Linked DNA regions of Homo sapiens. The protein of the gene in region 1 purifies or fractionates together with the protein of each later gene. This does not show direct contact. Each region holds a gene or a part of one and is shown on either strand. Other genes may lie near its edges.

What was found. Proteins that work in one complex are often made in the same cells at the same time.
Region 2: the proteins of EDNRA (region 1) and ARL5B purify together in Homo sapiens (affinity purification with mass spectrometry; 3 studies listed by BioGRID and IntAct, with this or other methods). This does not show direct contact.

The regions. Positions count from the first base shown.
Region 1 is NC_000004.12:147,525,151-147,530,322, reverse strand, and holds part of EDNRA (endothelin-1 receptor isoform a precursor), read right to left. Parts: exon of another isoform or gene 3,827-5,172; coding exon of another isoform or gene 3,772-3,826; exon of another isoform or gene 2,773-3,771; intron 1-2,772. UniProt on the Homo sapiens protein: Receptor for endothelin-1. Mediates its action by association with G proteins that activate a phosphatidylinositol-calcium second messenger system. The rank order of binding affinities for ET-A is: ET1 > ET2 >> ET3.
Region 2 is NC_000010.11:18,678,113-18,682,639, reverse strand, and holds the end of ARL5B (ADP-ribosylation factor-like protein 5B), read right to left. Parts: 3' UTR 1,001-4,527; downstream 1-1,000.

The DNA of each region.
Region 1 (5,172 bases):
GACAGGATGTCTATATCCCAAGGCTGTCAACGGAGTTACATCTATTTCTTCTTCCCTTCTCTCAGGTTGTTTACCAGGGAAGGTGATTTAAATAAAACACCCTGTTTCATTAGAGAGTAAGAAAACCTGATTTCCTTGCCAGGATTTGGGGTGAAAAGTGGCTTAAGGAATAAAATGTGGTCAACATGTTCTTATGATGAACATGTTCACAGACCAACTTCATTTTTATAAAGCGCCATGAGTTCCCAGAATATTACACATCCATAATCCAATGTAAATTCAACATTCACAAATAAGTAGAAGTCATTTTTAGAGTCTAGTTTAGCAAATAATTCATGATCAGTCTGCTCCTTCATTAACCCACTCACTGAAAATTAGAATATTTTCCATTTATAATCACACAGATCTCGATAACATCTCCATGAGATAAGGGGAAAACAGCCATAAGAACAATTAGGAACAATCATTTGTGATAATGGAGGTGGGGAAATGTATGGAAACCATGAAACACTGGATGTTTCAAAACTGATTTCTATTTTGAATATAATGGCACAACACACTGACACACAAATATGCTTTTCTCATGAGGTGCGATTATAAATAGCCTTCCATCTAGTCAGTATGTATATACATCTCTCTCTGTATATCCATGACATCTTCAGTTGTCATGGAAAATCTGCAAGTGTAGATTCCACCACTGACAACTGCTGTTCCAGAAAGAATCCCTCCTCTCTGAAATGCTTTCTTCACTTGATTTCCACCACAATCTCCCAGTTTTCCTTCTGACTTACTGGCCATTCCTTCTCATTTACCTGGCTGGACCCCGCTTTCTCCACAAATTCTTAGTATTGGATTTGTCTGAGGGCTTAGTGCTCAGACGTTTTTTCTGTCTATGCGCTCTCCTTTGGTGATCTCATCTAGTCTCGTGGCTTTAATGTCATTTAACTATCCATCTAGCGGTAATTCCTAAATTTATACCTCTAGCCTGGTGCCTCACCTTTAACTCTAGACTTGTACCTCCAACTGCCTACTTGCGAGCTCCACTAGGACACCTAACAGGCATCTAAACACTCCCAAATCAGACTCCTTGTCTTCCTTGTGGCTAAACCTTTCTGCAGTTGTTCCCATCTCTGGCCCCAAACATTGGGTTAGATTTCACTCCTCTTCCACCACACATCCAATCCTTCAGCAAATCTTGCAACAACTTCCTTCAAGATATATCCAAATGCAACCACTTTTCACCATCGTACCTGTTATCGCAGTGCCTTGATGATTGCCATAGCTTCCTAACTGATCTTCCTATGTCCACCTTGCTTTGCCACAGCCTCGTCTGAACATAGCAACTGGAGTGAGGCTGTTACGTCAGAACATAGCAACTGGAGTGAGGCTGTTACGTCAGACCATAGCACCCTCTGCTCCAAACCCCCCAGTGGCTTCCCACCCCTGTGAGAATGCCTACAGGTGTCCTCAGAGCTGCTTCCTCACTTCCTTCCGGTTTTTACTCAATTGCAGTTTTCACAGAAGCCTTCCCTGGAGACCCTACTTAAGTTTGCCAACTCCCCCTCCAGAATTGTCTCTCTCACCCTGATTCATTTTTCCCCATAGCACTACAATGTGACCAACAATGTTCTATTTATTTATTTGGTTTATCATCTATGCTCTCCCCTCTCCTTTAGAATGTAAGTTCCCAGCCGGGTGCGATGGTTCATGCCTGCAATCCCAGCACTTTGGAAGGCTGAGGGGGGCGATCGCTTGACACCCTGGGCAACATGGTGAAATTCCATCTCTACAAAAATACAACAATTAGCCAGGCATGGTGGTGCATGCCTATATTCCCTTGGGAGGCTGGGGTGGGAGGATCCCCTGAGCCCAGGGAGGTTGAGCCTGCAGCGATCCCTGATCATGGCACTGCACTCCAGCCTGGGTGACAGAGTAAGACCCTGTCTGAAAAAAAAAAAAAAAAAAGAAAGCAAGAAAAGAAAAAAGTGAAAAAAAGCATATAAGCTTCATAAAGGCTGACATTTTGTATGTTGGTCACAATACCTAGAACAACAAGTGCCAAATAAATACCTGTTGAATGAAGTGTCTTTTTGTTGGCGTTTTCATGCCTGTTACCATGCATGTACCTTACCTCACCTTAATTGGCTAGGGAATTCTTAATCTCTAGGGAATTCTGGTGAAGAATCAGTCAGCATAATTCTAAGAGTTATGTTTACACAGATGTACTGTGTAACCTTACCTTACCTTAATTGGCTAAAGCTAATAGCACACTACATTCTGATCATTTTCCTATTTTTCAAGCTAGCCATGAATTAGGCCACAGATTAAAAGCTAATACTTTTAGAGGACCAGATTCAATAATTTAAAGGAGGGATCTATGGGCTGATCTTTCTGCCCCATATGTTCCAGTTGGGAACCTGAGAGCTGGCATCTTGTCGCATCCTCTGCCTGGTCTCCAGTGAACCTGGGGCGTCTGGACCATGGCTCAGGGCTGCCAACTCCCGGTAGAGCCTTTTTGCATTATATCACCTTGTACCCTGTCATGTGATAGGCCAAAATAAAAGTATAAAATATATATTTTATTCATGTAAAGATGTTTGTTAGTGCGTGTGCCTATAAATAGATTTTTACATGTTATTAAGGCCAGAGGCATTTAATGCATGTTTATTGAATCTTGAAGGTGTGGTCTGGGATAGTCATTAAGTTTAAAAATGTTTATTCTTGAAAGAACTTTAAAACATTATAAAATAAAACAAATTAAAAAGATACCACTTCAACAAAATCTATTTTTTTATTCTTTTCTTGTTTTGATTCTCACAGGCATAGTTTGAATAGACTATAATCATATGACTCACAATTTTTAAATTTTAGCTTTATTTACATTAAAAATACTCTCCTATGTTTCTACACGGGCGTGGCCCTTATCAATTTAATGGCTACACAGTATAACAAGATTTTGATATAATTTACTTGAATTTTTTTTCTATGTTCACATCATTTCTAGTGTTTCACAGCTGTGAATAAGACGCCTATAAGCTTGTTTGTACACATAATTTTTTTTCTCTTTCTGAATGATTTTTCTGGATTAATTATCTTGAGTGGGATTACTGGATCAGGGAATAAATAGGTGGCTGAAGTGCCTTAAGAAAGAAGTTTCTACCAAGTGCCTGTTAATGAATGCTTGCCTGTGTTAGAATTTATTATTTATTCTTATTTACCACTTCCATAAGGTACAGTGCCGCCCCTATCTTTACCTCTGCACATCTTTAATTAACAGCAAACTTGATCATTTGTAATGGTTGTTAATGATTTATATCTCTCATACCATATGGAGGTTTGGAAGCTAAATGCTAGCAGGAAGAATTCTTTTTTAGAGATAGGGTCTTACTCTGTCATCCAGGCTGAAGTGCAGTGGCACAATCATAGCTGTAGCCTCCAGAACCTGTACTCCCTTAAGGGATCCTCCTATCTCAGGCTCCCTAGTAGCTGGGACTATTGGTGCCCACCACCATGACAGGCTAATTTTTAAAAATATTTTTTGTAGAGACAAGGATCTCGCTATGTTGCCCAGGGTAGTCTTGAATTCCTGACTTCAAGCCATCCTCCTGCTTCGGCCTCCTAAGGCTGAGCCACTGCAACTGCTTGGCCAATTCCAATTTAGAAGAGAATCAGGTGTGGTGAATTAAAAGACAGCTGCAAATGCTTTACCACTTCTTCAGTTGAGTTCTTAAATTGAGCTGGCCTGTGACTACTTTGATCAATTGAGTGTGGCTAGAATGATGTTTTGCAGTTCCAGGTCTGGCCTCTGAAAGGAGCCTTGAGCCTGCTGGAGCAAAAACAGAGAGGACCCTGAGACTACATGGAGGGGGAGATGGGCTCTGCTGAGCTCAGACATCCAGCTGTCCCTGCCAAGGTGCCAGGCATGTGAGTGTTGGACCTCTGACACAAGCTCAGAGTCAGCTGAAGTCCACCAACCCCAGGTGACGTGACAAGGAGCAGAAGAATTGCCCAAATTCCTGACCTTCAACATGGTGAGATATGATAAAACGGTTGTTGTTCTGAATTGCTAAGTTTTGGGGTAGTTATCAAAGAGAAGTGGGGTAGCAAAATTAACCAGTTGCCTGATCTTGACAATAGAATAAGATAAAAGAACAAATAACTCAGTACGATAGTGAACAGACTCCCAAATAAGATCCTATTGCCCTAGCCAGCCTTGGACTTTGTCCAGTTCCCTGCTCATGTCTTCTGGCTCAGACCCTTCCTCTGTGTCTTCACTATTGTCATGGTGCAATAGAAAACCATAACACCAGGAAAATAAGGAGAAACCAAGTCCAACTCTAACAAAGAGGTTTTTCTGAAAACCACCTTCATGTTTCTTGAGTTAGGATATACCTTTGAGAATATCACAGAGACCACTGATCAATTATTTGAAATGATGGGTTCAAGAACTGACATCAGCTTTTCAGCCATATAAAACAAAGCTGCCTCATTAATGGATCTTTGCAACTTTTCCAAGTATCTAATAACACATCACTCTGGAATAGTTGTTAAAAGAGTTTTATCTTTTTATAGCCTTCTTCCCCAGGCAACTTTTAACAAGTTGGATCTGTACCCAGACCTTTTTACTGGTCTGACCCCATCATCATCATCTTCCACTTTAACACGATTTTGCAAAGATCAACAGTGATCCCTCCTACCCCTCTCCTGCTGCTGCTTTTTTTTTTTTTGCCTCCAAACAAACTCAAAGTAATATATAAAACTTGTCACTTTCAGCATGTAAAAATAACTATTTTAATAGCTGGTAATGGCTGGTTATTCATTTTTGTTGGGAAAAGTTTATTCATTATAGAAGTATACTGCCTTAGAATTAAAAAGATAATTCAACAAGAAAGCTGGATAGGGGTCAAAATTTGTTTCTGAATTTCTTCAGTTCCTGATTTGTCTTTTTCTCAAATGACCAAGGATGTGAAACTAGATTTGCGGAGGAATTATTCAAAAGGTTAAACTGAGACAAGTCCATAGTTGAAATTAGCAATGAAAGCCTATCCATTCTGGCAGAAATCATGTGCTTTCTCTCAGTCCTGTTTAGCTTATTCAGATTAAAAGCTGATAGTGAGAAAGCTAGATATTTTCTTTGATCTTACATCATTCTGTAATCATTGATTGACGAAG
Region 2 (4,527 bases), on another chromosome or scaffold:
TTTTCATTACCCAGATTGTGGTGAAGATTTTGCAAATGTATACACATCAAAGCTTTTCAAATTGTACACTTTAACCACGAACAGTTTAATGCATTCATTATACCTACAAAAATACCTACATAAAACATGCTTTAAAAAAGATACCAATCTTAAGTTTACTGATTAAAAAATAACAGGCAGAATGAAATCTTACTAGTTTCTGGTGTCTTTCAGAAGAAATCTGAGTGTTCCGTGTGTAGCAGAACTCTTAAGCCTAGGTACCTGAAATTCCTAACCTTCTACTCAAAATTCCTAACTCTGTAATTATGAGTCATTTTTCTACGTAGGCAACTTTTATCACATTCCCAAAGAGGTCTGTGAGCAAAAACGGTGGAGTTAAAACCACTTTAGAGGAATGTGAAGAATGAACATAGTGAAAATGTTATCCCACTCATTATTAGATCTCAATTTTATTTTATTTTTTACAAGGACACAACTTTGGTAGATGATCCCAATTATACCCCACAATGGAGTACACACCAATCCGGATCACCTTCCCAGGCCAGGGATTCCCCTTCTCTGGTAAATGCACCTTCCACTTGGCCAGTTGTTTAGATCAGAGAGAGGAAATGACCCAATGCAGGCTAATGAACAATTTCCCTGGGGAATATGGAATTGTAATTGAAAGTCTAACAATAATCTGACTTCTCCCTTGTACAAATTTAGGAGGCTACTGGACTTGGGACATTATCTGTTATGTGGATCAGGAAACAGAGAAATCCAGTCAGGTGAAAGACAGAAACAGATGAGCAGGAAAAAAGGTAACTTCCTGCTTGCTCCTAAATGGTCCAGTCTCTAGTCTCAGTCTGTTCTACAAATCCAGTTGTTCCGTGGGTTCTGTGAGCCTCCACCACCTCACCCCAATTATCCTCTCTTTGTTGGCATAGGTGGGTTTCTATTATTTGCAAGCAAATAACTTAAAGCAGATTTACCTTTAAAAGAAAACACTGGATTCACTTCGTATTGGAAAAGTAATTATTTATTATGACAAAAATAAAACTGTTGAATGAAAACAAATGAATGTTACACTATATTGCACCATGATTGGAAATGAGCCAAAACCTGTCTAAAAGATGAACATTCCAGAGCAAACAGCATCGTTTTACTTGGGTTAAGTAGGCATGCAAACAACTCATTATAACATAATTGCAGAAATAAAAATTATGAGTACTGGCAACCTAAACTTAACATATAAAAGAAGCACTTCATAACTAATAAAGTATTAAAAACTTTAAAACATGTCATTTAAACAATCCCACCATCAGGAAAACATGCTTTGAACCATTTTCAAGAAGTGATCATGTGAATGCATTAATTTACTTGTTTTAAATTTTTTGTTGTTGTTGTTAATGCTTATATATTGGACCAATGGAACACATTTGTTTGGCTGGGGTTCAGACACACAGTTTGTGGTGTGAAAGACATTTTTCTTTCCTCTGCACAATACCGGAGGACCCACAGAGCAATCCAATTCCTAATTCTGACCTTATTAATACCATCTTCCAGTTGACCAAGCATAGTAATGAAGATATTCTTAGAGCTTTCGCAGAAAGCCTGAAGCTTAAGGAGTAACAACAGTTTGTATTTAAATCTTAAGAAATGCACATATATATGAATATAGACACTTTAAAGTTGTTTTGCATTCTGAGGCAAGAAATAATAAATACTGAGTACAGGGCCTGCTGCTTCCTCTTTAATGCTCTAAAGCACCAATTTATGTTAAAATAGCAAAGTGTGATTATAATCATTCACTCTGATTAGAATAAACGCAACACCAAGGTTGTAATTGCTGTTAGGTTTTTGTTGTTGTTGTTTTTAACATGCTCTGTGGAATAGATGAACATGGTAAAATTTGTAACTATTCTGTAATTGAAAAAAATCATGACCGTTTTATTTTACACTTTCACTGAAATAGCAGCTAAACTTTTTTTAAGTCATAAATAAAAGTTTTTGTAACTACACTCAACAGTTTACTCCAAGAGAATAAAATAGGGGCTTCAGAGTCCCTAAATTTCCTGAGGGAAAATATAAGATTAAAATGATTATGGTCTCTTGTGAATAGGGCTTAAATATGCAAATAAGTCACTGATGACTGGGATCAACTGATAGTCATTTGATATCTTACCAACACTGATGGAAATATATTCACAGTATAAAAGAATCCATCAAATTTAGGATTTCTCCTTTCCCTTATCTAATTAAACTAATTAAATATTGACTGAGCACTTTCCTATGTGCTTTAATGAAACCATATGTGAATCTCATATATCTACCATGTTGGCCCAGCTGGTAAACAAGAGTAAAACAAAACAAAGTCTCCAAGGAATGCTATCCCTTAGTTATGAATTTTGCATATTTCAAATACAGTTTGGGTGAAGGGGGTTTTTATGGGATGGTACAAACATCCCACAAACTTGAGCAAAGCACCTTATGGATTGAAAAATGAGGTAATTTTTTAATTAAAATTTTACAAGTTGTGCAAGAAAACATATCCATTCTTTTAAAACTTTGTTTTCTATTCCAAAAGCTATGCACAGCACATTTCATATTTCTCCATTTCCAGGAGAAAATGTAGATTACTGGTTTAAGAAATGCAAAAGATGCCTTTATGTGACTACAGTTCCAAATTCTAAAACCCTAATCAGTCTTCACTCCTTTGGCCACATTAAGAATAATACAGGCCATCTAGCTGTATGGTAAAAAGACAGTATTTTTTAGTAATTTTAAGTACCCTAAATACGAGGAGAGGCAGAAATTCACTGCTTTCATTCACATTTTCTCTTACCTAATATCCTTTTGAAGTTTTTTCGACCTCATGATATTGTCTTTACTTTCAAGTGCTTTGAATTTGTTTTTCGTATGCTTCTAAACCTCCAAATTAATATTTCCCAAATGTTTCACCAAACTATATACATTTAAAGCTGCCTTTAGGTCTGAGGGGCACAATTTTTTTTTCTGCTTTAAATTTAAAATGGAATAGTTGAACATATTTTTTTATATTGGTCTTCCTCTATTTATTTTGGTCCCCTAAAATTTTTTAAAAATACTTTTTTGGGGAACCTGGCTTTTGGATTTCAGTCTTCACAGTAAAAGTGAATGAATAAGGAGGAGACGCTACTGAAAAACTAACCTTGAATATAAACCACTTTCAGATTTATGTAGACATTTATGTAGACATTTGTAAAAGACTGACAACCTGGCTACTAACCCTACTCTTTCAATATGGAAAGTCACACAGAACTATAGACTGGGGTGGCATCAAACGGCAATAAACTCTGAACAAATTAACCACTTCCATTCAATTAGTACAAGCCAAGAAAATAAGGTAAATTATCTAGAAGAGAATTATTTCCAACACAGGCTGGTTCTTTCTAAGCAGCTTACTATCCTTTTCTTAGCAATATGGCTTGTTTTCTCTTTTGCATTGTCATTAGCTATTTCTATTCAGCTATTAATTCGCTGAATTTAAGTTGAATAGCAGTTACTGATACGTTTTTCCCTACTTGGTTGTATTCGTATTCTAAATAAAATAACAGGTGGGAATCAAATAATGGATAAAAATACATTTAATTTCATATTACCTGTATTGCCCTACTATTTGAGGGATTTTTAATTTTTAATAGTAGTATATAAGCATTCAGAATTTTAAAACCAAAAGACATTTTAGAGCTGTAGTTTAAGTTCCTCAGTATGGGAAAAACAAAAGGAAAGCCATGGACACTAATTGTCTAAGGTCAACTAGACAATTGAGAAACGGCCAAATTAAGGCTCAAATCCACTTTTTTAGATGGCTAGCACAATATTCTACTAGATACAAGACACCATGCTGTATCTTGAAGTCACTTTACCCCGGCAAAATGTAAAATAGCCTTTAGGACTGAATTAGAGTGAAGTTTTTTTGGTTCCAAAGCTGTAGACAAAAAGTCTGCCTCATAAAGTTGGTCTCCAAAGATAAATTCCAAAGAAATTTATCCATCTTTAGACACGACACCAGCACATTTTTCTACTGATACGGTTTTACATAGTTAAGGACTAAATAAAAATTGATTATTCAGAATGATTATGTTTATAATTTGTTCTAAGAAACTACACTAAAAAGATTTTTTAAAAAAGCTTCTATATTCTTTAAAATTTTCTTTGTGACCCCCACAACTTTTCAGAGAATATTGTTTACAGCACTGCCTATCACTGTTTCCATACTAAAATAATTATTTTCTCTTTATGCTATAATGAAAGTTAAATTATGCTTAATCAAAATGACTATGGCTATGGGGTGGCACTCATTTAAAATTTTTCAGCAATGAAACTTAAATTTATTACCTTTCTTCTAATGAATATAGAATAAAAGTATTGATACCTTTAAGCATACTAACACAAGAAACTAAAAGCAAAAATTACATATTTAATCTTCAGCTTTTAATAGATTATATATATTAATATTCCAGGTTTTAAGGAATTAAGTTACATTAACAATAAAAAATATTCCAT